2 linked regions of the Homo sapiens genome follow. The protein of the gene in region 1 binds, or shares a complex with, the protein of each later gene. Each region holds a gene or a part of one and is shown on either strand. Other genes may lie near its edges. A codon is read from its position in the direction of its gene.

The links.
Region 2: the proteins of SLC9A3 (region 1) and CHP1 are in contact, whole or in part, in a cryo-EM structure (PDB 7X2U), measured with the Homo sapiens proteins. Residues at the interface, in NP_004165.2 of Homo sapiens: Tyr396, Arg397, Met398, Gln400, Glu402, Arg474, Leu475, Asn476, Glu477, Leu479, His480, Gly481, Arg482, Ala483, Phe484, Asp485, His486, Ile487, Leu488, Ser489, Ala490, Ile491, Glu492, Asp493, Ile494, Ser495, Gly496, Gln497, Asn501, Arg504; in NP_009167.1 of Homo sapiens: Arg30, Leu31, Arg34, Leu38, Lys40, Glu49 (codon at 8,681), Phe51 (codon at 8,675), Gln52 (codon at 8,672), Arg53 (codon at 8,669), Ile54 (codon at 8,666), Glu56 (codon at 8,660), Leu57 (codon at 8,657), Ala58 (codon at 8,654), Ile59 (codon at 8,651), Asn60 (codon at 8,648), Pro61 (codon at 8,645), Leu62 (codon at 8,642), Asp64 (codon at 8,636), Ile66 (codon at 8,630), Phe70 (codon at 8,618), Phe83, Leu87, Phe90, Leu115, Phe117, Ala118, Leu121, Tyr122, Leu135, Leu139.

What each region holds. Positions count from the first base shown.
Region 1 is NC_000005.10:516,537-531,879, reverse strand, and holds the start of SLC9A3 (sodium/hydrogen exchanger 3 isoform 1 precursor), read left to right. Parts: upstream 1-7,430; 5' UTR 7,431-7,557; coding exon 7,558-7,768; intron 7,769-15,343. UniProt on the Homo sapiens protein: Plasma membrane Na(+)/H(+) antiporter. Exchanges intracellular H(+) ions for extracellular Na(+) in 1:1 stoichiometry, playing a key role in salt and fluid absorption and pH homeostasis.
Region 2 is NC_000015.10:41,251,212-41,265,594, reverse strand, and holds part of CHP1 (calcineurin B homologous protein 1), read right to left. Parts: intron 8,896-14,383; exon of another isoform or gene 8,785-8,895; intron 8,686-8,784; coding exon 8,605-8,685; intron 2,840-8,604; coding exon 2,712-2,839; intron 1,431-2,711; coding exon of another isoform or gene 1,408-1,430; exon of another isoform or gene 1-1,407. UniProt on the Homo sapiens protein: Calcium-binding protein involved in different processes such as regulation of vesicular trafficking, plasma membrane Na(+)/H(+) exchanger and gene transcription. Involved in the constitutive exocytic membrane traffic.

The sequences.
Region 1 (15,343 bases):
AGAGCAATTCCGTCCATCTCCAGCTGTTTCTATGGAGGCAGAGTGGAAGGGCTGTGGGGCAGGCACAGAGGTGACCCCAGCCAGAGCCACCCCCACTGGCAGGTGGGAATGCCCGCCGGTGAATAGCGGCAAGTGTGATGGTGCCTGCCCACTGCACACCTGGTGCACACACGTGTCAACCACCTAGAGCGTGCCCAGCCCTGTAGCCAAGGGACTCACCACCCTTGCTCTGCGGGGGGTGCTCCAAGGCACAGTAAGACTGGTCCATGCCAAGTGAGGGCAGTGCCGGCTCGGCCAGCCACCTGCTCCAGGTCTCAGCTCCCGCAGCTCCACCTGACTTCCCGGTGTTTCTAGGGGTCTGAGGCCCCACACCAGCACCAGCCTCCAGCTAGTGGCGAGGGCTGTCGCTGTGTCTCCAGGCAGTGAACGAGCCTCTGGAGGGTCCCTGGAGGGGAGGAGAGGGAGGACAAGAGCGCATCTCGTGGAGGAGGGGCAAACACACCCTGGGGGTAGATGCAAGGCTGAGCCAGGCAGGCCAGGCAGTGTCTGCTGGGGACACACGCCGGAGCCCCTGGGGGGCCAGGGCCTCAAAGGAAGCCGGAGGAGGAGACCTGGATGATTACTCAAGTGTGAGAGACTCAAGGACACCCGCTGCAGCCAAATTCTGTGTGAACAATGATTTGGAACGCGGCCGCGCAGAGGTGAGCCGGCCTGGGTGGTGGAATGTGGCATCCAGTCCGGCCGCATCTCTCCTTCCTGGCGACTCCACGCTCACAAATTGCCTGCGCATCTCCTCTGACATTCGTCCCCCTCGAGGGTCTGCTTCCCGTGTGCTGCCTGCATTCAGAGGGTACGTCTGTGCCTCATGCAGAAACTAACACCGCTCAAGCAAACATTTGCTGAAGGGACGCAAATTATAAAGACGCCATGGGGAAATGAACCGAGTCCAGGAGGCAGAAGAAAACACATCCAAGGACCCAGAGCAGAGTGAGCTCGTTTTCCTCTGAGCAGGTCTGAAGCCGTGACGGGGCGCACAGGCCGCATCCCTGAGCATGGCGGGCACGGGGGCGATGAGAGGGAGAAACCTTGCTGCCCACACAGGTGGAGAGGCTCAGCTGCAGCGTGAGGATCCTGGGGGGCTGCCGTCAGCCGTCTGCATGTTATTAACTAAGAAAAGGTCTTGGAAGATAAAGATTTTCAGACCCAACTGGAACAAACCAGCACACCTAGAGCTCTGCGTCCCTGCATCCTACGAGTCCCGTTGAGTCTGAGCAGAGCACAGAACACAGAACTGCGTCAATGACTGAGGCAGATTCACCCACACAGACCAGGTTCCTCCTACAAAGCGCCTTTTGCCAAACATAAGAGGACTGAGGTCCAGGTTCCTCCCGCAAAGCGCCTTTCGCCAAACATAAGAGGACTGAGGTCCAGGTTCCTCCCGCAAAGCGCCTTTCGCCAAACATAAGAGGACTGAGGTCACACAGCCTGTGTTCTCTGGGCTGAGTGGAATTACAGTAGATTCAGTAAGAGAAAGATAAGAGGAGAATCTCCAAATGTTTAGAAATTAAGCAATTGTGGATTAAGCAACACACTTCTAAATAACCCATATGTCAAAGGAGCCACAGTAGAAATCAGAAAATGTCTTGAGCTGAATGAGGAACACACAGCATATAAAAGCGTCCAGGATACAATGTCTTGAGCTGAATGAGGAACACACAGCATATGAAAAAGCCTCCAGGATATGCAAAACTAGCCACCAAAGGGAAATCCACAGCTTATTGAAAAAGTTCCACATTTAAAAAGGGGAAATGCTGAAACCAATGACCTATGCTTTCAGCTCAAGAAACTAGAAAAAGGACATCAAAATAAAGGCAAAGCAGAAGGAAGGAAATCATAGTAAAATGTATGAAAGAGAAGACAGATATAAATCAGAGAAAATCAACAAGACCAAAATCTGGTTCTGTGAGAAGATGAATAAAGTTGATAAACCTCCCAGCAATGTTGATCATTAAAAAAGAGAAAACAAAAATCATCGCCAGGAGGTACAAAAGGGAGACATCACTGCAGAGTCTTATGGACACAGGGGAGATTACAATCACATTATGTGCTTTACATCAATAAACATGAATTTTTGATGCAATGAACACATTTCTTGAAAAGTACAATTTATCAGAATTAAGACAAAAAGTCAAAAAATATGATTTATCAAAATGGACACAAAAAGAAAAGTCCAAACAGCCTAATATTTATTAATTAAATCCATCATTTAAAACCTTTCCACAAAGAAAGCTCCATGTCCATTTGGTTTCACTGTTGAATTATCCTATAAATTTCCGCCACACCCCTTGCTAGATTTTTTTTTCCTAGGTATTTCATATTTTTGATGCTGCATGAATAGTACTGTTAAATTAGCTTTCATTTTCTAAAAAGTGTGTTGTTCGTGCATAGAAACCCAGTTCACGGTGGCTTGTTGGCTTTGTAGCCAGCAGCCTTGCTGAGCTAACTCTTGCCGGTTCTGAGAGTGTGCGAGGAAGACCTCTGTGCTGCCTACAGGCGGGAGCTGTCTTGCATCCTGAAGATGGGGCTGAGGGTGGGGGCCGGTGGCCGAGGTTCCTGCCTCAGAGGAGCCTTCCTGAGTGCCAGCACCTGCTCCAAAGATGAGGCTGAGGGTGGGGGCAGGTGGCAAACGTTCCTGCTTCAGAGGAGGCTTCCTGAGTGCCAGCACCTGCTCCTGCCGGCCTTACAGATGCTACCTATCAGCTTAAAGGAATCTGCTTCTATTCTACGTTTCCCAAGGGTTTCCCCTCCCGAAATGCGGGGGCCACAGGCGAGCGCCACCACTCGGCTACTGTTTTTTATTATGTTTTTTAGAGACAGGGTCTCACTATGTGGCCCAGGCTGGTCTCGAGCTCCCAGCCTCAAGTGATCCTTCTGCCTGGGCCTCCCAGAGCGCTGGGCTGGTCTCTGCACACGGTTGGATTCGGTTTTAGTGCTTCCAGTTGTGTTGGGCAACGGGGTGGGCGGGTTTGCCCGGGGCGGCGCGGTCCCTCCGGGTCTGTTGGTGCCCGGATCCCGGAGCCCCGGGCGGGGGGAGGCCACTGGCTTCGCGCGTGACCGCCAGGTCCGCAGCGCCTTTCGTGGCCGGAGACGGGGCGAGGCGACCGGAGGTCTCGGCCCAGGGGCGCGGGGGAGCGGGGCGCGGGGCGGGGCGGCGGCCGGGAGAGGGGCGTCCACGGGGGAGGTCGCCTGTCCGCGGACCGCTAAGACACCGCAGCAGAGGCGTCCGGGGCGGGCGGGGCGGGCGGGGCGGGAGGGACAGGAGCGAGAGGGTTCGTGCGCTCAGCGGGACGGAAGCGGTTGCGGATGCACATGCGGATGCGGAGAGAGGCCCATGGCGAGTTCGGCGGCGTGGCCGGCCGGGCTGTCCCCGAGGGCGGAAGGGAGGACGCGCGACCCCGACGGGCACTGACGGGCCGGCCGGGGACGGTGCTGGGAGGGCCTGCCGGGCCTTGCCAGGTCCCCCGCGCCATTGCCCTGGGGTGGACTGCGGGGCACAGAGACTCTCCTGCGGCGCCGTCCCCAGCCCTTCGCCCCTCCCGGCGCAGCCCCCGGCCCCTGAGCTCCCCACCCAACCCCGGGGCCCCTGAGCTCCCCACCCAACCCCGGGGCCCCTGAACTCCCCACCCAACCCACGGGGGGAGCTGCCGCTTCAGACACAGGCCCTGAGCTACCCCCGCAGGGGTGTCACAGTGGGGGGGTCTGACTCCAACCCGGGCTGGTGCCCTCAGGGAGCCAGGAAAGGTGAGTCTCCGCGGGTGAGGAGACCCCAGGCCCAACACGGACAGGACGGACCAGAGCGCGGGCCTCAAGTCCTGCAGGCCCTCCAGCTCCAGGCTGGTCAAGAGTCTGTCCATCTCTGAAGAAGAGGAAAGGTCCCACCTGAGGCCTCAGAGGCCACCCGGGAAGGGAAGGGCTGAGCTCTAATCTGCTTTTGAGAAAGACATTTGTATCCCCCGGATCCAACAACCAATAAGAGTGGCATTGACGGGAGGTGGCATGACGGGGGGGCGCGGTGGTCTCTTTCCTGGAAGGGCATCTCCCAGAGGGGCCTCTTGCCTGAAGCTGAGATGTGCCTGGCACACAGCAGGTGTGGACCAAGGGAAGGCCAGCAGGTGTGGCTCCCAGTGGAATAAAACCTTCCTTAAGAAGACCTGGCCCCTGACAACTTTGGGTTGAAAAATAAACTTAGAGTGGGCAGTGATGCCTGTCTCCTGCCTGGCTTCAAGCATTGGAAGTTACTTAAAAACTTAACTTTCTTCTCTTAAATATTGTTAACAACAGTATGAATGGATGCGCCTCTTCATCCACAAGACACTTTCACAAGCCGTATGTGGAATTCATGACAGGAAATTAATGTGACAGACTAGGTGTTTTCAGTTTTATTTTCTTAATCCTGAAGTTCAGATGCTGTGGCAGCTGGGTATAAGATTACAGTTGTTTTCCGACTGGCTTTTGCATTATTTCCACATTTTTGAATGTTTTACAGCCACGCCCCTTCCCCATACGTGCAGGGGGTCCCTGGACCACAAGGGGTCCAGGCCACGGTGGAAGGATCCAGAATGCTATGCGTGCCTGCCTGAGGCAGGAAGTGGTCGGGCAGTTATCAGATCGTCACCACCCACAGGACAGGAATGTTCTCAGGATACTTCCCAAGACCCCCTCACACACACACACAAGTCTCTGGGTCTTTTTGGCCATGAGGATGTGCAGGTTGTGCACTGTACAATTCCAAGGGGCACGGTTCATACAGTCTGCCTGATATGGATGGTGGCCCCTGCAGTGGTGGGGTGCCACGGCCCTGCCTAAAACCACGACCCAGTTAGAGGGAGGGTTTTGTGGCTCCAGTCCGAGGGTAGGGGAGTGGGTGTGCACACCCTGTATAATCCCCTAGACTGGCTTCTGCATGAGGCTGGCATCCTCAAGGCCATGCCCATCACAGGCTGGGGCAGCGCCCGTCTGCCCCGAGCCCTCCAGCAACCTTGGAGTGCAGACGCATTTCATCCTCCAAATGCTCACAGATTGAGATGCTGCCAAACAGCCACACTTCTCACCTGTGCAGGGACTCGTGGGCAGTGGGGTGTGCCCTGGCAGGACTCGTGGGCAGTGGGGTGTGCCTTGTTCTGGCCACGCCACTTCAGGGGCTCATTGCCTTTCTATTCTCCATGAGGCAGCCCTTCCTGCTGTGGGGGGCAGTGGAGGTGTGGGCAGCACACTACCTGATGGCCAGCGCCTGGCACTGGTGTCTGTTCTGGATTTGTCCTTCCAGGCAGTGACACTGCTCTTCTGCCCTTTGAACAGCTTTGTGGAGAAAGGTTGTCGGCTCTTAGGACAGGCTGGTTGGGGGGTGGGGTGGCCGGAGGTCCAGTGGGCATCATGGAACACACTGGTCTGGTGGAAATTTGGCCTTCCTGTGGAATGCAAGGGCAACATCTTCAGAGAGGACGTCGTTCCTAACGGCTCCACCCAGGAACCATAAGGAAAGAGCAGGGAAGCTCCGGACTGGAGGGAATCCTGTTCTTGTCCTGCTGGCTTTTTCTCTGGGACAAGAGGCTGGGAGTGGAGTGGGGGACAGAGACAGGTGGGGCAGGGACACAGGCCAAGAGCGACTCCGATGCTCCCACCTCGCAAGACCATACTAGTGGCCAGTCACACACTTCCACTCCCCCGGTGCCCTGTCCAGACCCTGCAGTGGCCCAGGCCAGGGCTGCCCTCCCTCCACGCCACTCAGCAGCCGAGTCACCAGGCGAGCACCATCTGAATGCACCTTCCCTGTGCTACACGGGCCACTTCCATTAGCATGAAACTGGGGCCCTTGCAGGGTGAAGTCATTGAACTCAGCACTGTCCTCCTCAGGCCTCCGCAGCCCCCACTCAGATGTCAGAAGACACATCCATCCTCCATCTGCACCCACCCCACCGCCCACCTGCCCTTTGTCCACCTATCTGTCCTTCCATCCATCTATCATCCATCCGCTCAGCCACTATCTTGCGAGTGCTATTGTGTGCCCAGCTATCTTCCAAGCTCCTGGGATGTATGCATGAGCCCCTTGCTCGTGGAGCAGACATTCCCAGGGTGAGGGCAGACAGCTCAAGGTCAAAGCCAGCAGCCCCCAGGGCTGGGAGGTGAGCTGATTCCCGGAGCCAACCGAGTAAGCAGGGGAGGCGGGAGCTTAGCTGCCACAGTTGTGAGCTGAGTGGGTATCGGGTGGGACCAGAAGGTGGCATTGGAGCCAAGCCCCTGGGGAGCTGAGGAAGGGAGCACACAAGAGCCGTCCAAACAGAGGGAGCAGGGCGTGCAAAGGCCCCGAGAGGCGCCGATTGCTGGTGTGGGCCGTGGAGTGCATGGGGGTGGGGGTCAGGCAGTGGCTGGGGTCTGAGCTCCCGGGAGACGTTGAGCCTTTCCTCTGAGAGGGAGGGTCCCAATAGGAGGGACTGAAGGGGCAGGTAGAGGGCCGAGCAGGAGCCTTTGCAGGTGGCTGCAGGCTCCCAGAAGCCGCTGGTTTTGTGCACATTTTGAAAGTAGAGCAGATATGCTAAGAGCTTGGAAACCTTGTGAGCGAAAGAAGTCCACCTGCGTCCCAGGTCTGGGGCTGGAAGGCTGCAGGGTGGGCTTGGAGGAAAACAGGGGTGTGGTTTGCACAGTGGAGCCTGAGATGCTTAAGAGAGCCAGTGCTGCCGGAGCGGGCTGTGGGCAGAGGCCCCGCATCCGTGTGAAGCCCTGGGGGTATCGAATTGTTTTGGGCGGAGGTCTAAAGGCAGGGGATGGGGCAGGGGAGACCACGGGGGCCCCTGGGCTCCCATCTCAGAGCCTGGGGTGGGGGATGCTGGCTGGCGATGGGAGGGGCAGAGAGACTTACCAGCGCACCACGCAAGGCCTGGGCGCCCCCGAGTTCTGGTAAGTGGCCGGTCCGGCTGTGGAATGCAGGTTCCTGCTGAAGACAATAGCGAGGGGCTGTGTGAAGACACACCTGGGGCCCCTGTGCACCCTTGGGCCGCCCTGTGGGGTCTGCGCAGCCCCAGGCCCTGCGTTTATGAAGGAGGGTTGGGGCGAGCGCACCCACAGCTGCCCGGGCATCCCAGGAGCTGCGCGGAACCGCCTGTCCCGCTGCCCCGCGCTGTGCTCCCCACGCCCCAGGAAGGCGGCCGCGCAGTCCCGGGCTCGCTCTTGCCGCGACCTCCCGGACCTCCAGGCCGCGGGCTCCGGGGGAGGGTGGGCACCAGGGAGCGCGGGGTGGGCGTGCGCGGGCGGGGCGGGCGTGCCGGGAGCTGCGGCGGTGTCTGCGCTCGCGAGTGCGCGGCGGGGGCGGGCAGGCTCCGCCCCGGGGCGGGAGGGGGCCGCGGGATTAAAGGCCACCCCGGCGGGCGGGGATCGGACTGTAGCCGGTACCGGCACCGGAGCGCGCCGGGTCCTCGCCGGGTCCCAGCCCCGCGCGTCGGCCCAGCCCAGCCGGGACCCCCCGCGACATGCGCGTCCCAGCCCTGCGCTGAGCAGGCGGCAATGTGGGGACTCGGGGCCCGGGGCCCCGACCGGGGGCTGCTGCTGGCGCTGGCGCTGGGCGGGCTGGCGCGGGCCGGGGGCGTCGAGGTGGAGCCCGGCGGCGCGCACGGCGAGAGCGGGGGCTTCCAGGTGGTCACCTTCGAGTGGGCCCACGTGCAGGATCCCTACGTCATCGCGCTCTGGATCCTCGTGGCCAGCTTGGCCAAGATCGGTAAGTGGCCCCGGGGTCTCCGGATCTGCCCGCGGGGTGTGCGGCCGCCTCTGCTGGGCCTGGGGGCTTCGTTGTGGCCGCGCGCATCAGGTCGGAGCCGCGCGGCGGCCGCCCGGGAGAGTCCGGCTCTCGGGTCCAGCAGAGCGAGACTCGGGAGCGACTCTGGCCGCGCTAAGCCGCCCCTGCGGGTCCCGAGGTCTCCCCTCCCCGGCGGGGGCACAGCCTCGGAGCCCCGGACTCCCGGCTCCCGGGTCCCTGTGGGGTCTCCGCCCCGCCTCCGCTCCGAGCCCCGCAGACTGCAGGCTGCTCGCGCCCAGGGAGTCCCCGGGGCCGGGTTTCCTTCGGGGTTCTCAGGCTTTTTAGAGAAACGTCCTTGGAGTGATGGCGTTTTTTCGTGAGTTACAAGGGCAGAAAAGAAAAGCGGTGCTACCCGCATGAAACCCAGCAGAATCCTCCCTACAGGCGCAGCGTTCCCATTGGCGGGCCTCCTTTTTTTTTTTTTTTTTTAGAAAATCCCGGTCGGTCAGATTTCTCTTCTTCTTAACCGGCGCCAATGAACCAGTAATGTGGGCACGGCAGGTAGCTCCTGGCAAGGTGACAGGAAGGTCAGCTTCCTGAGGAGCTCGTGGGGATCAAAGTTTCATGTGTTGGTCCACAGGGTAGGGTCTCTCCAGGGGTGGCAGGGAGGTGGTCACTCGTGTGGAGGGGGGATTAGGGGGCCCGAGTGGGGCCAGGAGAAGCAAGATCAGAGCAGCAGGCGCCGCGGCAGGTTTCCAGAGCAGCTTTGGACTGGGGCGAGAGGAGGTTTCGATGCTGGGGCCGAGGAGGGGCGCCCACGCAGGACAGGGGAGGGACAGGCTCCGGGGAGAACAGCTGAGAGGACCTTGGCCTTGGTGGAACCTGGTACGCCCAGCAGGCTTGATTGGAGAAGGCGCCTTTTCCTTCAGTGACGCCTGCCGCCTGCCCTATTTATGCCAGGGTCTCCCCTCCCCTTCAGGCCCCTTGTGTGTTTGCTTTCTGTCTCATAAGGGCTCTTCTGAGCCCTCCCGCCTCCTCCCTTCTCCGCAGCCTCCTCCTCGCCCTGGTGTCTTTCAGCTCCCCGCCGGGCTGCCTGCTCTCCAGGCTCAGGCTGTCCTCCCTGGGCTTTCCACTGGGGGCTTGGGATGCTGGCCGGGGGGGAGTCTCTGAGGCTGGCTGCCTCCTACAGTTGATTTCCTTGAGAAGGGCCCCTGGGGCATCAGGGAGGTCCAGACTCAACCTGGGCTCTGCGGCCGCCCAGTCCTAAAGCTCACCCTGCTTTCCTCTGACGGGAGTGCCCCCCTGGTGTAAACTGAAAAGGTAATTTCTTTTTTTTTCTTTTTTTTTTTTTTTTGAGATAGAATTTTGCTCTTGTTGCCCAGGCTGGAGTGCAATGACGCGATCTCGGCTCACTGCAACCTCCACATCCTGCCTCAGCCTCCCGAGTAGCTGGGATTACAGGCATGAGCCACCACGCCCAGCTAATTTGTATTTTTAGTACAGACAGGGTTTCTCCATGTTGGTCAGGCTGGTCTTGAACTCCAGACCTCAGGTGATCCACCCGCCTCGGCCTCCCAAAGTGCTGGGATGACAGGCGTGAGCCACCGCGCCCGGCCGTGAATATCTAATTTCTGTACAAGCTGGGGCCTCTCCCAGTTTAGCCCAGTGTACAGAGTCAGAATCTGGCATCTGAAGGTCCAATGACAGCCGCCAGGCACCAGCCAGCCCCGCCTGGGAGCCGGCAGATAAGGCACACTGACCAGGGCTTTGCCTGGCCTCAGAGTTTGTTATTCACAGGGAAAAGCCTTCAGGTCTCCCAAACACTTGGACTGGTTCTGGGAAGACGTCCTTGAGGGCGGGGAGGCTGCCGGCTCCAGCAGCAACTCCCCGGGGCAGGGCGGTCCTTTACAAAGGCCCACCCTGATAGCACTCAGCGGCTGTCTTTGTCTCGGATTGTTGGCTCCACCTGGGAAGGCGAGCCTTACCCTGTGCAGCTGTGGGAGCTCATCGCGGTATCCCACAGGCGCAGACCCTCTCCAGACCTGCCCTTTACGCTCCCTGTCGTCCCCTCAACCCACTGTGCACTCTGCAGCCCCGGCAGTGACAGCTGAGGTCTGCTCTGGGTCTGCCCGGATTGGCCCCCAGGGTGTCCCACCCTCCATCCCCTCTCTGCCAGCCACACCTCTTGAACACAGCCCCCAGCCCTCCCTGTGTGCTTCCTCCCCCAACCCCTTCCCTGTGAACTCTGGACTTCTCAGATTCCACTGGCCCAGACCGTCCTCCTTGTGCAGCCAGCCTCAGGTGCACGACCTGTGTTCCCAGAGGACCCTCAGGTCCAGGCCTTCACAGACACCGGGGCCCAAGCCTGCACCACAGCGGGAACTTCTCCAGTTTCACCCAGCCTCCTCCACATGCCCACAGCCCCCGGACTGGGGTCTGAACCTACTAAGCTGCTTGGCACATTTTGTTGTTTAAAATGGTCAGGGGTTGGCCACACTCTTTCAGTCTCAAGTTACACGAACAGAAATGTCTCTTCCAGCAGAAAAGAGCTGCCATTCCTGTTGCTTTTCCAAACATTTGTTGAATTTCTCACACATCCTGAGAGTTTCTAACTCACAGCCCCAGCCTTCTTCAAGCCATTTGTAACCTGGTTGGGGAAATAAGAGTCCGGGTACCCTGAAACCCACAGCAATGTTGATCCCAGGAGATTTCTACTCCAGGCAGCTTGGGACAGAGGATGGCCAGAGGGCCAGAGCTGCCTCAAGCAAACACTGGGGCTGGGGCCTCAGCAGGTGGCCCAGGAGCCTGGGCAAGGAACAGGTGCTGCTGTTGGCCCACCAGCCTCAGGCCGCGTGTCTGGCTCCGGCAAGGGCTCCCCACAAGCCCCCTATTTGTGTGCACTGGGGTTCCCCTGCCTTTTACAGCATCTTTTTAAAATGCAGAAGGGGAGGCAAGGGCCGAGGCCACGGAGCCACTCCACAGCGCAGACCTCCCAGACTGAGAGGACGAGGAAGTCTTTAGCAGTGGAGGCGGCAGGGCCTAGTGTCTGCCTCAGGCAGGGTGAGGGGGCTTCCTCCTGTGCCCCTTGGGGGCCCCCAGCCTGCAGCCACCCGCACCAGGGCCACTCTAGGCCTTAGGTGCCCACCAGAATCCCCGCCTCACCCTGCACCGTCCGTGTTGGGAACCCTGGGCCAGGCTTTCCTTCCTTCCTGGGCTTCCTCTGGGGGCTGAGGCTGTGCCTTGCAGAGACTGCCAGGCCTGGCAGCACTGGGTGGGGGCCCTGGGGTGGGATCCAGGCAGTGGCAGGTGTCAGGACTGCAAGCAATGGGCCCCTGGAAGGAGAGGGAGGCGGGGGTGTCAGAAGCCAGAGGAGGAGGCCTAGGGTGGGTCCCTGGGGAGGCAGAGGGAGGCCCGAGCAACTCAGCTACAGGCCTTGGAGGACTTTGGTCCCCACCTAGCGTCGTGGTGAGGAGTGGATGTGGTCAGATCTGAGTTCTCAGACGACTGCCTGGCCATGGGGCAGAGAATGGCACCGGGGAGATTCCGGGAGGATGGTGGGGAGCTTCCCTTGGGCATCAGGGCGGTGGACAGCAGGGCCTCCTTGAAGCAGGAGTGGGGATGTCACAGGGTCATCAGTGACACAGCAGGGGCCAGACCTCCTGGCCCCATCCTGTTCTCAACCCTTCGGGGGGCTCTGCTGCGCTGACCTCGCCCTGCAGCTCTGAGCCACACATGAGCGACAGGACCCGACCAAAAGGGAACTGGGGGAGTTACAATTTTGAGATGTCGGAAACCGGGGAGGGGCTGGGGCCGGGAGTGGATTCTAGGCCCAGCTGGGTCTATTTGTCCCCAGGCGTCTGGCCGTGGGTACCCCTTGGGTCGTGGACGCACAGGAGGTGTGGGAGCTGACATCCCATGGGGCCTGAACTCCAGAGCTGGGCAGCGCTGGCTCAGGGAGGTGGCGCCTTGAGGGTTAGGACCTGAGCAGCGGCAGTGACTGCCCACGGGGAAACCAGGACAGTGGGGCTGGGTGGGGGCGGTGGGGGCAGGCTCTCGAAGTGGAGCTTGTGTTGCTGAGGGATGTGATGGCGGAGGCCCAGGCCGCCCCACATCTTGGTGAACCCTGGCTGGAAGGGCAGGCAGGAGCGAGACGGGTATCTGGAGTCTGCAGTGCCTCGCGCAGCCGTAGGAGGGTCAGGAGGACGCTAGGGCACAGGGTCAGGAGTGCAGCCCCCTGCTCTGAGCGGCGCAGCCCCCCCACCCCCCTCTGAGCGGCGTTACCCCCACTGTGGGAGTGTGGGAATGCTTTTCTGCAGGAGCTTCAGCCTTGGGGTTCCAGCACCTCCTCCTTAACTGGACAGGGTCAAGACCCAGATCCCTGAGCGCCAGGTTCCCTGCTCCCGGCCCCAAATCTGAGGCACTGGGTGCTTCCTTGTTGTCTGGGTGGGTGCAGGAGGTCGTCCTCACCCGACACTTGACTCCCGGACCCCCGCTGTCTTACCCAGCGTGTCCCAGGGAGCCTCCGCCACTGGGGGTGTGACACTGCCTAGACCACCTGCCTAAGCTGTGGATTTCTCCCAGGTGCAGCCTTCCACCGGGCACTCAGTGCCCAGGCTGTGAGGGCAGCTGTGGGTCACCTTCACCTCCTGGGGTGAATGGTTTTATTGCATGTGCTCTGGTCCTGGAGGCAGGAATCCCTCAATGCGCACAGCACCTACCCCTTCACCATATCTGCTACCCACTCCAGCTGAACTGCCCTTAGGTTCTCCTTGAAGAAGCATAGGAAAGGAGGTTCTGGGGACAAGGATGGCCTAGAAGGCCAGGGTGGTCAGCAAAGTCCCCAGGGGACCCAGTCCTCCCAGGAGAGGACCAGTGAGTGGGCCCTGTGGACCCCAGTCCTGGCAGGAGAGGTATGCTCAGTGGGTTTGGAGTCAGGAGCCATCACGGGAGGCCTGGAAGCAAAGACTCTCCCAGGAGTCTCCACAGGGGAGGGTCTGGCCCTGAAGGGGTGAAGTTTCATTTTCCAGGAGCTGCCCACGGAGAATCAGCTGTAGGCTATAAAACAATCCATGGCGTTTGGAGCTAAGGTGTCGCCCGGGAGAATCCTGAGGAAAGGGGCAAAGGTTGGGAAGTGCTGATAGCATCGGGGCAGGGAAGGAACCACCAGGGCTCCCTGTGGGTACCTGGCAGCTCCGCCAGAGGCTGAGAGAGAGACAGGGATGGTGAGTCACTCTTGGCCGCCAGCCCCCCCAGCCCACTCCCTGCCACCCCAGGAGCTCCCCGCCTCTGGGCGTGTGTGGCGCTCCCTGTGACCACACAGGCTTGTTAAGATGCCTGTCTGGGCCCAAGCTCCAGCACCCAACCAGCCTCATGTCTACTGCAGAAATGGCTGAGCTCTCCCAGCGTGGCCACCCCCACTGCCGGCTTCTCCAGGAGCCAGGGGCTGCACTGGGGCATGTTTAGAGTTGGGGTTCCCATCCTGCACATCATCTGCCCAGCGTCTGGGCTGAGTCCCACAACCAGGAGTCTCAGTGCACGATGAAGCCACCAAGGCTTTCCTCACCCACCCTTGAGACAAGAGTCTCAGGATACCAGGTGTCAGGGTGCCAGGTGTTGGCGTGCCAGGTTTCTGGGTACCAGGTGTTGGGGTACCAGGTCTCAGGGTGCCAGGTCTCAGGATGCCAGATCTCCAAGTGCCAGGCCTCAGGGTGCCCGGTCGCGAAGTGCCATATCTCAGGGTGCTAGATCTCAGGGTATCAGGTCTCAGGGTGCCAGGTCTCAGGGTACCAGGTCCTGGGATGCCAGACTCCACCCTCCCCCAAATCATGCACTCACCCCAGCTTCATCCCTTCACACTCAGCATCTCTCCTGCTCCACCTTTCCTGAGCTCGGAGCCTTCCTCCTCTGAGCTCCTGAGGACACCTCCTCCTCCAAGGTCTTTTGGCTCAACCAGGTTGATGCCACAATGGCAGAGGTTGTCTGTCTTATTCCTCCTGTGTCCCCAGTGCCTGTCCCCAGCAGAGTCCTGCAGATCTGAGCACGTGAATGGACATGTGGATGGATGGATGGATGAGTGAATAGATAGATGGATGGATGCGTGGATTGATGAATGGATGAATGGATGAGTAAATGGATGGAAGGGTGGATGAGCGAATGGATGAATGGAGTGAATGGATGGATGGATGGATGATGGGTGGATGGATGGATAAGTGGATGGATGGATGGATGAGTGAATGGTCAGATGGGTGGATGAGTGGATGGATGGATGGATGGATGGATGGTTTGGATGGATGGATGGTTTCGGTGAATGGACGAGTGGATGGATGGGTGGATGGATGGATGGATGGGTGAATGGATGGATGGGTGGATGGCTGGATGGCTTGGGTGAATGGATGGATGGGTGGATGGATGGATGGATGGATAGATGGATGAATGAATGGATATATGAATGAGTGAATGGATAGATGGATGAGTGGATTGATAGATGGGTGAGTGAGTGGATGGATGGATAGGTGGATGGGTGAATGGATGGATGGGTGAATGGATGGATGAGTGGATTGATGGATGGATGAGTGAATGGATAGCTGGATGGATGAGTGGACTGATGGATGGATGAGTGGATGGATAGATGGCTTGGATGAATGGATGAGTGAATAGTTGGATGGGTGGATTGATGGATGGATGGATGAATGAATGGATATATGGATAAGTGAATGGATGGATGGATGAGTGGATTGATGGATGGGTGGGTGAGTGAACTCATGGATGGATGAGTGAATGAATGGATATATGGATGAGTGGATAGGTGGATGAGTGAATGGATGGATGAATGAGTGAGTGAGTGAATGGACAGATGGATGGATGGCTGATGCGTGAATGGTTGGTGGATGGATGAGTGGATTGATGGATGGATGAGTGAGTGGATGGGTGAATGGATGAGTAAATGGAGGGATGGGCGGAAGGATGGGTAGATATGTGGATGGATGGATGGATGGATGAGTGGATGGATGGATGCACCCACAGGTGGGTGAAGGAGGAATGAACGAATGAGTGGATGGACAAATGGATGGATGAATGCACACATGGGAGAGTGAAGGAGTGGAGGGATAAACATTGGCTTCCCATGTGTAAGCTTCATCCAAAACCATCTGGACACTGGGCCCAGGAAGAGGCTGTCTCAGCTCCTCGGCTGAATTATTTCCTTAAATTACTGCAGAGCCTCCAGTGAGCAGCACACCTACTTCTGGATGACAATGGCTTTAGAGGCGCCGCCTGCCAAGGAGTGGCAGACTTAACCTGCAAAGTGGGATCATTGACAAGCAATTGCAGCATCGGCTCAGAGCACTTTGGCAGATCTGGGCTCAGCATGGTGAGCACCATCTGCCCCACACAGAGCTCTCTCAGGAGTGGGTCATGTGCCCAGAGAGAAACCACGCTCACCTGGCCTAAAACATGCTCCACTGTCAGCTGAAATCTTAGCTATGCCTTAGCTATATGCCTTCTGGAATAAGACAGACAAACCCAGCCCCATCCTGATGTTGCCAGACCTCGGAAGAT
Region 2 (14,383 bases), on another chromosome or scaffold:
AGATTACAGGCGCCCGCCACCACGCCCAGCTAATTTTTTGTATTTTTAGTACAGACAGGGTTTCACCATGTTGGCCAGGCTGGTCTTGAACCCCTGATCTCAAGTGATCCACCCGCCTTGGCCTCCCAAAGTGCTGGGATTACAGGCGTGAGCCATCATGCCTGGCCTGTAAACCCAGATTTCTAAGTAACACATCTCCTTTTTTTTTTTTTTTTTTTTTTTTTTTTTTTTGAGACAGAGTCTCGCTCTATCACCCAGGCTGGAGTGCAATGGCATGATCTCGGCTCACTGTAGCCTCCACCTCCCAGGTTCAAGCAATTCTCCCGCCTCAGCCTCCTGAGTAGCTGGGATTACAGGCATCCACCATTATGCCTGGCTAATTTTTTTTGTATTTTTGTAGAAATGGGGTTTCACTATGTTGGCCAGACTTGTCTCGAACTCCTGACCTCAGGTGATCCGCCTGCCTCAGCCTCCCAAAGTGCTGGGATTACAGGCGTGAGCCACCGCACCTGGCCCACATCCCCTTTCTCTAAGGTAAATGTGTCTCAGTGGCAAATGTATTGCTAGGTATATGACATTCAATTGCTCTCAGTCTACAGTAAGAGGCACCATGCTACAGCTTATACAGCCCTGTGGGAACTTCAAAGAGAAGCAACACATTTAGACAGAAATTGAGGACTTCTCGGACTCTTCTAGTCTTTTCTTTGGCATTAGAATAGCTTCGGTTTTACTGGTCTAATTACATGAATGTGATCCCTATACATAGACTGCAACAGAATTCTAATTAATTTTTAGCTTCCTATAAAAGTTAATCCAACAGCCAAGACTAAAGTATGTAATGAAAAAAACAGGCTGGGTATGGAGGCTCATGCCTGTAATCCCAGCACTTTGGGAGGCCAAGGTGGGATGACTGCTTGCGTCCAAGATTTCGAGACCAGTCTGGGCAACATAGTGAGACCCTGTCCCTACAAAAAATTAGAAAATAAAAAATTAGCTGGGTGTAGTGCACACGCCTGTGGTCCCAGCAACTTGAGAGGCTGAGGCAAAAAGATCACTTGAGCCAGGAAAGTCAAGGCCATAGTGAGCTGTGATCACGCCACTGCACTCAGCCTGGGTGACAGAGTGAGACCCTATCTCAAAAAATTAAGCAAAAACAAAATAAAACCAAGCATAACCTGCATAGCACTTTGTTATTATTCTATCTCATCCTGAAGTCTGCCATTTCTGTGGCATTCCAACCTTTTTCCTTAGCAGAACCCCAATCACAGCATCAGGAGGGGAATCTCATTAGCCTAATCTCCTCGGCACTCGCACTCTCCTGACCTGAACTGACTTATCAAAGTGAGGGGAAGGACTTACATTCCATGCTTGGGAGGAGTGTTGCTCAATTTCAGTCTCGATCTCTCTCTATATATATCTCTCTTCCTCTACTGCCAGATGTGAACAAGAAAAAAAAAAGCCCTGTTAACAACTGAGAGCTGCCATGTGACCATAATACTTTAGGATAAAACAGACTATGAGGATGGCAGAGTAAAGAGAAAAATCCCTAGTTCTTGAAACAGAATCAACCCTCCTGCCGGCCTAATCTGACTTGTAAAGTGAGCTAATATAGTTCCCTATTGTTTAAGCCAGCTGAGTCAGCTAAAGGTATCCTAAGACACCATGTAACGCCCAAATCCACTAGTGCTATTTCGAAGATTTTGTTTTGTTTTCTTTTCTTTGTTGAGACAGAGTTTCTGTCACCTGGGCTGAAGTGCAGTGGTGCCATCAAGGTTCATTGCAGCCTCAACCTCTCAGGCTCAAGCAATTCTCCCACCTCAGCCTCCCAAGTACCTGGGAGCACAGGTGCCTGCCACCACACCTGGCTAATTTTTGTATTTTTATTAGAGACAATGTTTCACCATGTTGCCCAGGCTGGTCTCAAACTCCTGGGCTCAAGTGATCTACCTACCTTGGCCTCCCAAAGTGCTGGGATTACAGGCATGAGCCACTGCGCCCAGCCTTCAGTCAGTTTTAATACAACTGTAATTTCAACTTGTACTGAATAAAAAGATAAATTTAATTTCAATTTCCTGGAGAAGTGTTGTAAGGGATTGGGCAATATTGTACATGAACCAATAAGGGCAGAAGGGAAGGCAAACAAGTATTAAAGGAAAAGAGGCATGAGACACGGGTATAAAAATTAAATCTTGCACTGTATCCAGCTGTCCCCCATTACTTAAGTCACATCCAGTGTCTATCAAATTCTAAGATGAGCTGAGGATTGCCATTATTCCTTAAAGGTGGGGCCTGGGTCTTGTTCACTATTGCCATGCTAGCACTTAACACAGTGCCTGGCACACGGTAGGTGCTCAATGAATTATAATGATACTAGGTAACACTTATTAAGTACCTAGTATATGCCAGGCACTATGTGAAGCACTTGACATTTATTAACTCATTTAATCCTCACAACAATCCAATGTGGAACCCCTTAGTATCCTATTTTACAGAAGAGAAAACTGAAGCCCAAAGAGGTTAAGTACCTTGCCCAAAGTCACACGACCAAAAAAGGGTAGACTAGTATTTAATCTTGGCCAGTTTAGCTCCAGAGTCTGAGGTCTTAACCAGTATGCTCTTGTAGATGCTTGTTCAAATAATGAGTGAGTAAATACATGACTTTTAAGAAATGAAAAGCAAGTATTTTAAGCCAGAAGACTTTAGCTCCTTACAGTGCAGTTTGTTGCTTCGGCTGTTGAGTGGTTCGGGTCCATTCACATCTTTGCTCTTTTCATTATCCTCAATGGGGCGGAAATGAGCCAAAGTTCGCATGAATCCACGGAAGTTTACCTGGTCCTCTCTGATTGTGAAATATAACAAACACAACACCATGTCAATCACGGTGATTATTTCTTATGAATTAAATATACTGGCAACAGCTTTAGCTACGGTAGCCTGAAAGGTCATTTAATGAGGTTTCTTTCCATACGCATGGTACTTTGGGACTCACAGTACCATATCATTTAAGCCTCACCCCAACCTTGTAAGGCAGGTGCTATTACTCCCACTTTATAAATGATTTAACCAGATTTAGGTAACAGGACTTACCAGGGATAAAGTTATCTATTGAATTTACTTGCATCTGTTTTCCAAAAAATGAATGTAGAGTAGTGCCAGCACTATACAAGACAGCCAGAACTTGAACTCATTGCTTTGAACTCTGCAGCGAGCCACAGGCAGCCCAATGACTCCTCAGCCACCTCCCACATCTCCCCCATCTCCCCTGCAGTAATGTATACCAAGGGATATTTTAAAATTAAGGCACATTATGGAAAGGCCGCTTTTAAAATAAAGTTTATTTAATTTTTAATTTTTCTTATTTATTTATTTATTTTGAGACAGAGTCTTGCTCTGCTTATAAATAAATAAAGTCTTGCTTTATTTATTTATTTTGAGACAGAGTCTTGCATCCAGGCTGGAATGCAGTGGCACTACCTCGGCTCACTGCAACCTCCGCCTCCCGGGTTCAAGCAATTCTCCTGCCTTAGCCTCCTGACTAGCTGGAACTACAGACGCCCGCCACCATGCCCGGCTAATTTTTTGTATTTTTTTTTTTTTTTTTTGAGATGGAGTTTTGCTCTTGTTGCCCAGGCTGGAATGCAATGGCGCGATCTCAGCTCACTGCAACCTCCGCCTCCCTGGTTCAAGCGATTCTCCTGCCCCAGCCTCTGGAGTAGCTGGGATTACAGGCATGCGCCACCACGCTCAGCTAATTTTATATTTTTAGTAGAGACGGGGTTTCTCCATGTTGGTCAGGCTAGTCTCGAACTCCCGACCTCAGGTGATCTGCCCGCCTCAGCCTCCCAAGTGGTGGGATTACAGGTGTGAGCTGCTGCACCCAGCCTAATTTTTTGTATTTTTAGTACAGACAGGGTTTCACCGTGTTAGCTAGGATCGTCTCAATCTCCTGACCTCATGATCTGCCCACCTCGGCCTCCCAAAGTGCTGGGATTACAGGCATGAGCCACCATGCCCAGCCAAGTTTATTTAATTATAAAAGCAAACATAAATTTGAAAATGTGGAAAAAAGAAAAGTAGATAGAAAAATACTGATCCGAGTTCTACCAATTACAACCACAGTTAATATAAATATATTTTCTGGCTGGGCACGGTGGTCCATGCCCATCATCCTAATACTTTGGGAGGCTGAGGCAGGCAGATCACTTGAGGCCAGGAGTTGAGACCAGCCTGACCAACATGGTAAAACCCTGTCTCTACTAAAAATACAAAAAAATTAGCTGGACGTGGTAGTGGGCACCTGTAATCCCAGCTACTCGGGAGGGTGAGGCAGGAGAATCGCTTGAAACTGGGAGGCAGAGGCTGCAGTGAGCCTAGATTGCACCACTGCACTCCAGCCTGGGTGACACAGCAAGACTATGTCAAAAAAAAAGAAAAGGAAAGGAAAGGGAAAGGAAAGGAAAAGGAAGGAAAAGGAAAGGAAAAGGAAGGAAGGGAGGGAGGAAAGGAAGGAAGGAAGGAATCAATCAATTAATCAATCAATCAATCAGCCAGGCATGGTGGCTCACGCTTATACTGCCAGTTATTTGGGAGGCTGAGGTGGGAGAATCACTTGAACACACAGGAGGCAGAAGTTGCGTGAGCCGAGACTGCGCCACTGCACTCCAGCCCAGGTGACGGTGCAAGACTCCCTCATATATATATGAATGCATTTTCTTCTAGTAACTTTTCTATGCTTTTCAGATAACTGTATTAGTATCCTGCCTTTTTTTTTAACTTTTAAGCATTTCTCCAATCAATATAAATACTTTGAAACATTTAAAACATATGCATAATTCTGTGGACACATCATGATTTTATTATTCCCTCATAATTGGATAATTTTTCTCTAAATAATCTTTTAGGCCAGGCACAGTGGCTCACGTCTATAATCCCAGCACTTCAAGAGGCCAAGGTGGGTGGATCACCTGAGGTCAGGAGTTCAAGACCAGCCTGGCCAACATGGTGAAACCCCGTCTCTACTAAAAATACAAAAATTAGCTGGGCCTGGTGGTGCATGCCTGTAATCCCAGCTACTTGAGAGCCTGAGGCAGGAGAATCACTTGAACCCCAAAGATGGAGGGTGCAATGAGTCGAGACTGCACCACTGCACTCCAGCCTGGGTGACAGAGGGAGACTCCATCTCAAAAAAAAAAAAAAAAAAGTTTTGAAAGACCTCTTGTGTATAAAGCCTTTTTGGTACTTAAGCTTGGAGAAAATCTTTTCATTGTGCCACAGGCTAATCAATAACCCTGTAAGAAATAATTCTCAAAACTTGAATGAAGAATGTTCTTTAATATTAAAAAAGAATGCCCCATGTAACATAATATAATTTATTTATCTAAGGCAGATGGCCTGGTTCCTGTGGTTACCTAAAAAAAAAAAAAACCCCAGCCTTTCTGTGCCCCACCGAATAGCTGAGGTATGTAGGTTCTCTTCTGTGCTCTATAGACATGCAGTTCATAGCCCTTCTAAAGGCAGAGTTCAAAGGCTAGCCTGTGAGCCATCTGTACTCAAAAGAATGACCTTGGCTGGGTGCAGTGGCTCACGCCCATAATCCCAGCACTCTGGGAGGCCGGGGCGGGCGGATCACCTGAGGTCAAGAGTTCAAAACCAGCCTGGCCAACGTGGTGAAACCTTAGCCAGGCGTGGTGGCGTGAGCCTGTAGTCCCAGCTACTTGGGGAGGCTGAGGCAGGAGAATCACTCGAACCCAGGAGGCAGAGGTTGCGGTGAGCCAAGATCACACCACTGCATGCCAGCCTGGGAGACAGAGGGAGACTCCGTCTCAAAAAAACAAAAAACAAAACAAAAGAATGACCTTTTAGTTCTTCGATGTATCTATACTGCTAATGGACCAGTATCTGGTCAAAAATGTCAGATCTGAGGAATCAAGTAATGTGGAGTAAAGTTTAAAACATATGCTAGAAAAAACACATTAATGATTATTGCTAGCATAAAGTTTCTGGGTAAAAGGGAATTGAATAACCATGGTCCACTTTCAAATCTCATTCTTTAAAAAAAAAAAAAAAAAAGCCCCAATGTGCATATGCCTAGGGAAGAAAGAAAAACCCAGAAGCCAAATATATCTATCTGATTAGAGCAAGAAGCAGAGTCGCAGCTTGCTAAGAGCTAAGCAGTGCAGCCCAGTAGAGCCCTCCACTTCCTCATATGCACTCTGTCCCATTTCCTTAGCAGTAGATTGGTGGACAGAATGACAGGTGATATTGTAGTCACAGCAAATGTAGTTTAGTCTTACAAAACAGCTTCCCACAAGCTGCTTCTTCAAGTAATCAATGGTGACTAAGGAATTCTGAAAAAAAGTTGGCAAAGTGACTCTCCTGGGTTTACTTTTCATTGCAAAAGGTTTGGATACAAAGCATAGCTGTGAAAGTTATCTCTGGATAGGGTTCAATGCTTTGCAGGGGTAAAAGAGGAATTAGAAAAAAGGAAGAATTCAGCATAAAAACCACACCTGAAACAAACAGGGCAGTTCAAGGAGAGAGAAAGGAAAAAATGAAAGAGGGCATAAGATTCCTCATAGTCAACGTGATTTGATTCCCATCTTTACATGAACTAACTGCCCGACCTAATTCCCCTTCTGACTTTCACTCACATTTCCTGAATGCCCAACCCTCTCAACTAGCAAATTCCTTTGCTCTCAATTTAGAGTTCTAAAATTTCCTCTCCAGGCATTTTATCTGACAGTGTCCTCATTGACAGTCTCATTATTAAAAACTGGCACCCATATAATATTTTGAAGTCCTGTGGGTCATAGACTATCCATATAAACCAGGAATAGATTGTTTAGGAAATTACTTAAAACAAGCTTATATGTAAGTTTTATTGTTGAAAAGGTACCTAATCAAATCAGTAAATATTTACTCACTACTGTGAAGGCAGTGTATTAGGTAGTAAAGCATATCAAAAGACTAGTTTCATGTTAGAAAAACCCACATTAAGAACAATCTACTTGACAAAGCATATGTGGTGAGAACTATGTTTATTCAATATCACGAAAGTAAAATAAAGGCTGGGGAAATGTTCCAGATTAAAGGAGGCTAAAGAGACATGACAACTGACCCAGACTAGATCCTGTACTGGAGGCGGGGAAGTGCTATAAAACAGATTATTGGATGACAAAATTGGAATATGAATATAAATTAGAATAAACTGGATAATATGTTAATAAAACAGAGTAATAGATTAGATAAGAGGATTGTATCAATGTTAAGTTTACTGAAGTAGATAACTATACTATGGATATGTAAAAGAATGTCCCTATTCTTAGCAAACACACACTGGTGCATTCAGAGGTAAAGGGTCATTACTATGCAACTTACCCTGAAATAGTTCAGAAATACAATTATGTGAACACACATACACAAAAAAATTACATAAGTATGTGTATATACATACATGTATGTATGTGTATGTATGTACGTACATGTAGGCATGTATGTATGTATATACACACACACGTAGAGTATGTGTAGGTAGAGAGAGGGGAAAGAGAGAGGGAAAAAGTGTCTGCAAGAGAGGGTATGTAGAGTAAGCACGGGTGTACAAGCTGCGCTGTTCAATACTGCAGTCACTTGTCACATCTGGTTATGTGCACTGAAAACATGGTCAGTCTGACTTGATATGTGTTTAAGTGTAAATTACACACTGGATTTCAAGGACTTATTATGAAAAAATGTAGGCTGGGCATGGTGGCTCACGCCAGTAATCCCAGTACTTTGGGAGGCTGAGGCAGGCGGATCACCTGAGGTCAGGAGCTCAAGACCAGCCTGGCCAACATGGTGAAACCCTGTCTCTACTAAAAATACAAAAATTAGCCAGGTATGGTGGCATGTGGCTGTAATCCCAACTATCTCGGAGGCTGAGGCAGGAGAATCGCTTGAACCCGGGAGGCAGAGGTTGCAGTGAGCCGAGATGGCACCACTGTACTCCAGCCTGAGCGACCGAGCAAGACTCTGTCTTAAAACAAACAAACAAACGAAAAAAGGATCTCAGTTATTTTTAATATTGATTATATATGGAAATAATATTTTAAATATATTAAATAAAATATATATTACCAAAGTTAACTTATTTTTACTTTTTAAATGTGGTTACTAGAAAATGTAAAATTACGTATGTGGCTTGCATTATATTTTTATTGGCTACTACTAAGAAGAGAGCACACAAATGAGGCAAAATGTTAACAATATAACAGTAGATGCATCAGGGCAATAAATATACAAGTATTCTCCGAATTACTTTTAACTTTTGCAACTTTTTTGTAAATTTGAAATTATTTCCAAATAAACATTTTTTAAAAGTCTAGTTTTACATCAATGATAAACATAAGAATTTTGAAGATAGGCTCATATATCTATTTGAAGTTTAAAACACACAGGAGGGTAGAACAGAAGAGATATTCTAGAAATGACAAAATTAGAATTGCTCAATATAATCAGGGGGTATCACAGTCTGAGATGGCACAACCAATATCATTATTCCAGATTAGCAAATAATTTAGGTTGTGATAGCCTCAGGAAGGAAGTCCAACAACTGTACTGACTCACCCCTCTGGAAAGAAGGCATTGATGATCCGGTCCCCCAGTGGGTTGATGGCAAGTTCTGGAATCCTCTGGAAATCTTCCCGGCTGCCAAGAGAATCACCTTGAGTTAGATAGAGATCATTGCCCTTAGCATGAACTCCTTAAGTCAGGAGGTAACAGGGTGTAACCTAGCAAGAATATTACCTCCTGGAATTTACTTCTGTGGCAAATTATACCAAATAACTGCAAAGAATAGCACTTTAATAGCTGCCAAGTGTTTCTTGCACCAACTCAGAAGTGGAAGGAGCCAGATTTGATTACGCCACATTCCAGTGAATTTAGCACACAGGTTACGTCAATAAGCCAACTGATGGACAAATACTAAGCTGTCCCTTAGTAAATGATTTCTTGAACATTAGCATTGCGTACCTAGTTATTAAGTTTGGAAAGTGAACAGCAAATGGAAAGTATCAAATACTGCAGAACTTGAATATGGGGACAAACACTTAGAGGGGTCTCCATATCCTTGTTAAGATTTTTAGGCACTTACAAAATGCAAGGAATTCTTAGGTGCTATTTACATGCAAGGAAATAATGTGACAACCAATTGATTTCCTTGTTCTGACTCTGGCTTTTTCTCCATTTCCATGTTCTGTGGACTAGGGCTACAGAAGTATTTAACCCTCAAACATGACAAGAGCAGTCATCCTCACATGACTTAGGCGAGGTTATACCAAAGCGAATATTGTCAGTTACCATTCATCACATATATATCATGTGCTGCTCTGTTTACATACATTATTCTCATTTCTTCACGCCAATGTTTTATGTATACCCTTTTAGAGCTGAGGAAATTGAGAGTCAGGAAGATAAAGTAACTTGCCCAAAGCCACACTACTCCTAAGTAGCAGAACTGTGATTTAAATCTAAGTCTGTAAGTCAAAGTATGTGTTCTTTTTCTAAAAACCATATTTCTTTCCTATATTGAACTTTTTTTTGAGACAGAGTCTTGCTCAGTCACCCAGGCTGGAATGCAATGGCATGGTCTTGGCTCACTGCCACCTCCACTTCCCAGGTTCAAGCGATTCTCCTGCCTCAGCCTCCCAAGTAGCTGGGATTACAGGCACTCTCCACCACGCCTGGCTAGTTTTTTGTACATTTAGTAGAGACGGAGTTTCACCATGTTGGCCAGGCTGGTCTTGAACTCCTGACCTCAGGTGATCTGCCGGCCTCGGCCTCCCAAAGTGCTGGGTGGGATTACAGGAGTGAGCCACGGTGCCCAGCCCTAATATTGAACCTTTTGAATGAAAGTTACTCTCCCCCAAATTCTTTATTTTTATTTTTTTGAGATGGAGTTTCGCTCCCAGGCTGGAGTGTAGTGGCTTGATCTCTGGGTTCACTGCAACCTCCTCCTCCCGGGTTCAAGCGATTCTACTGCTTCAGTCTCCCAAGTAGCTAGCATTACAAGCGGGTGCTACCATGCCCGGCCAATTTTTGTATTTTTAGTAGAGGTGGGGTTTTACCACATTGGCCAGGCTGGTCTTGAACTCCTGACCTCAGGTGATCCACCCACCTCAGCCTCCCAAAGTCCTGGGATTACAGGCGTGAGCCACCGCACCCAGTCCCCCAATTTTTCAATAAGTATTTTTTAAAAACTTTCTTTTGTTGGTTCCTGGGCCAAGAATACAAAGCTGTCTACAACTTATCTGTGCTGCAGTCTTCAAAAATATCAATGTCATGGAGGACAAAGAAAAGCAGAGGATTGTTCCAGATCAAGGGGGGGCTAAAGAGACACACAACAAAACCCAACACATGATCCCGGACTAGGAAAAAAACTGCTATAAGGACATTATTGGATAATATGTGAAAATGAAGCATGGACCATATAAAATATGGAATATTACATAATGGTACTGTTTCAAAATGCAACTTTCTTGATTTTGATCTGAGAATGTCCTTTCTATAGGAAATAAACAGTGAAGTATGTGACAAAATGTTAACAATTGGTGAATCTGGGTATCAGAATAAAAGTTATCTTGTATTGTTCTTGTAACTTCAAGTTTAAAATTATTTCCAGATAAAAAGTTAAAAAAAAGATTATAAACTAGATTTTACTCCTGCCTTCAAGAAGTTTACTTACAGACAGATAAAATGTATACCTCCACCCTCTTTGTAATATATGCTAGCAAAGACGGAAGATAATAAAATACTCCTACTGTACCCAGGAGACTTCACGCTCTTTTCCTCTTGTGGTTTAACGTTTACGTGGTGCTTAATTAACTCAGCAAGCTCTTCTCCACCACATTTGGTGACACAGGTAGAAACTGACCTAGTGGACTGAACACAAAGCTCTGGAACAATCATCCTGGATTCTAGTCCTTCTTGACCATTTAGTGTAATAATTTTATATCAATGCATGAACCAGAAGAAGTCATTCATAAGATAACTGGATTGCTTAAGATGATGAAAGAGAAAATTACCGAGGTCCTGATTATTTAATTCAACAAACATGTACTAAGCTTTTATTACATAATTTGTTCTGTAATACAAAGTCTACACTATCATCAAAATGTAGCTCCTCCTGTCTGACAGAGGTCAAGAAACAATAACTACTCACTTTTAAATTAAGACTAAGGCTGATTTGAATTGCATGGCTACATACTTCAGTTTAATGTCTAACAAGCTTAAGAAACTTTAGCTGAGAAAAGGCAGTTTAAATACCAAGTCTAGTATCAAGTGGTGATGCACAACCTAGCCTGAACTTCAGTCTCAATAAGGAGGTGTACACTTGGCCTTCCGATGGACCTGTCCTTTGATACTTTCTAACTCTACTCTTAGAATTTAGATTGTATATATAATGTAGTTCCAGTCACCCAGATCAAGGACAGTATTGCTAAAAGTATTAAAGTTAAAAAGAAAGAGGGCTGGGTATGGCAGCTCAGCCTATAATCCCAGCACTTTTGGAGGCCAAGGTGGAAGAACTGCTTCAGGCTAGGAGTTCGAGACCAGCCTGGGCAACAGAGCAAGACCACATCTCTAAAAAGTTTAAAAAAAAAAAAAAAATTAGCCAGGCATGGTGGCACGTGCCTGTAGTCCCAGCTACTTGGGAAGCTGAAGCGGGAGGATTGTTTGAGCCTAGAAGGTCAAGGCTGCAAGGAGCCATGGTAACATCACTGCCCTCGAGCCTGGGTGACAGAGTGAGACCCTGTTTCAAAACAGAAAAAACAAAACAAACAGAAAGAGTATAAAAAATAATTTGTCAGCCGGGCGCAGTGGCTCACACCTGTAATCCCAGCACTTTGGGAGGCCGAGGCGGGAGGATCATGAGGTCAAGAGATGAAGACCAACCTGGCTAACACGGTGAAACCCCGTCTCTACTAAAAAAACAAAAAATTAGCTAGGCGTGGTGACGGGCACCTGTAGTCCCAGCTACTCGGGAGACTGAGGCAGGAGAATGGCATGAACCTGGGAGGTGGAGGTTGCAGTGAGCCAAGATTGCGCCACTGCACTCCAGCCTGGTGACAGAGCAAGACTCCGTCTCAAAATAAATAAATAAATAAATAAATAAATAAATAAATAAATAAATAAATACTTTGTCAACTGTTAAATAAATAATATACGAACAAGTTATTATTACTGGTTGCTTTATAGTAGAATGTAGATCTGGGCAGTTTCTCTAAAACTTAGATTCTCAAATTTACCCATCAACATAAACCTAATAGAAAAAAATAAATACTCCAAAGTGGCCTAAACACCACAAGCATAAGATCCATCCGAAGGCCGGGCACAGTGGCTCACGCCTGTAATCCCAGCACTTTGGGAGGCTGAGGCAGGTGGATCACGAGGTCAAGAGATCAAGACCATCCTGGCCAACATGGTGAAACCCCGTCTCTACTAAAAACACAAAAATTAGCTGGGCATGGTGGCGCGAGCCTGTAGTCCCAGCTACTCTGGAGGCTGAGAAAGGAGAATCACTTGAACCTGGGAGGTGGAGGTTGCAGTGAGCCAAGATTGCGCCACTGCACTCCAGCCTGGTGACAGAGTGAGACTCCATCTCAAAAAAAAAAAAAAAAAAAAAAAAAAAAAACCATGTGAAATACAGATTTGTGTGGATTCACTGAAAAGCATACCAACATTATGTTCTGCCTCATGGTATACCTAGGAAAACCTTCCTTGAAGATTTTTTTAGAAAAAGACAGTATCACTGGTAGTAGTCAATTCTGAGAACAGAGCCATGTACGATGGCATTCTTTGTGGCCAAGAAATTTCCAATGGGGAGTGGTTTTCCAAACATTCAAGGGCACAGGGATGCTTAGAAAAACCAGGGTTTTTAGACTGTTAGTAACCAGACATGCCATCCCTCTATACTGCTCACCTTCACTGTGCAAGTCCCTTCTCTTACAGAGAGATTCAGCCTCACAGGTAACTTCTATCTCAAGCACCCACAGGTTGTTGCTTTAGTTGACTTGTACATAATGAGGAGATTAAAATCTGTTAATAGGACATACCCACTGGAACACACATTCAATTAGAAAACACAGCTTTCCAGGCCGGGCGTGGTGGCTCACTCCTGTAATTCCAGCACTTTGGGAGGCCGAGGTGGGTGGATCATGAGGTCAGGAGTTAGACACGAGCCTGGCCAAGATGGTAAAACCCCGTCTCTACTAAAAATACAAAAATCAGACGGGCGTGGTGGCGGGTGCCTGTAATCCCAGCTACTTGGGAGGCTGAGGCAGAGAACTGCTTGAACCCGGGAGGCGGAGGTTGCAGTCAGCCAAGATTGTACCACTCCAGCCTGGGCAACAGAGCGAGACTCTGTCTCAAAAAAAAAAAAGAAAAGAAAATACAGCTTTCCATTTTAAGTAGTATGAGAGGTTAAGCATATGGTACAACATATTTATTAACACTGAAATGACAAAAATTTCCATTAGCTAAAGCACTTAATCAGTATTTTTAAATTAAATGGATAAGATGGCCAGGCGTGGTGGTTGACGCCTATAATCCCAGCACTTTGGGAGGCCAAGGTGGGCAGATCGCCTGAGGTCAGGAGTTTGAGACCAGCCTGACCAATATGGAGAAACCCTGTCTCTATTAAAAATACAAAATAAGCCAGGCATAGTGGCATGTGCCTGTAATCCCAACCCAGGAGTCCGAGACCAGCCTGGGCAACATAGGGAAACCCTGTCTCTAATTAAAAAAAAAAAAAAAAAGGCAGCTGGCAGCGATCCCCAGCCTTTTTGGGACCAGGGACCAGTTTTATGGAAAATAATTTTTCTCCTGGGGGTAGACAGGATAGTTTCAGGATGACACTGTTCAACCTCAGATCAGCAGGCATTAGATTCTCATAAGGAGCACTCAGTCTAGATCCCTCACATGGGCAGTTCACAATAGGGTTTCTGTTCCTATGAGAATCTAGTGCCGCCACTGATCTGACCGGAGGCGGTGCTCAGGTGATAATGCTCACTTGCATTCTGTTCACCTCCTGCTGTGTAGCCCGGTTCCTAACTGGCCACAGACTGGTACTGGTCTGCAACCCAGAGGTTGGGGACCCCAGGGGTCCTAAAGTGGTCTTTTGCAGGTCAGGTTAAGGTAAGAGCCTGGTCAGTATCTGAACACAAAGATGGTTTCTCTTCTTTAAATATTCTTTGTTCTGATGTAATCTATGGAGTTACAAGGCAGGATAATGATTACCCTTTGGGGAGGGGAGCAGGTAAAGACAAAAGGAGCATAAGGGAAGCTTCTGGGTATTGGTAATAATCAGTTTCTTCATCTGGAGGCTGGATAGTCTTCCCTTGGTGAAAAT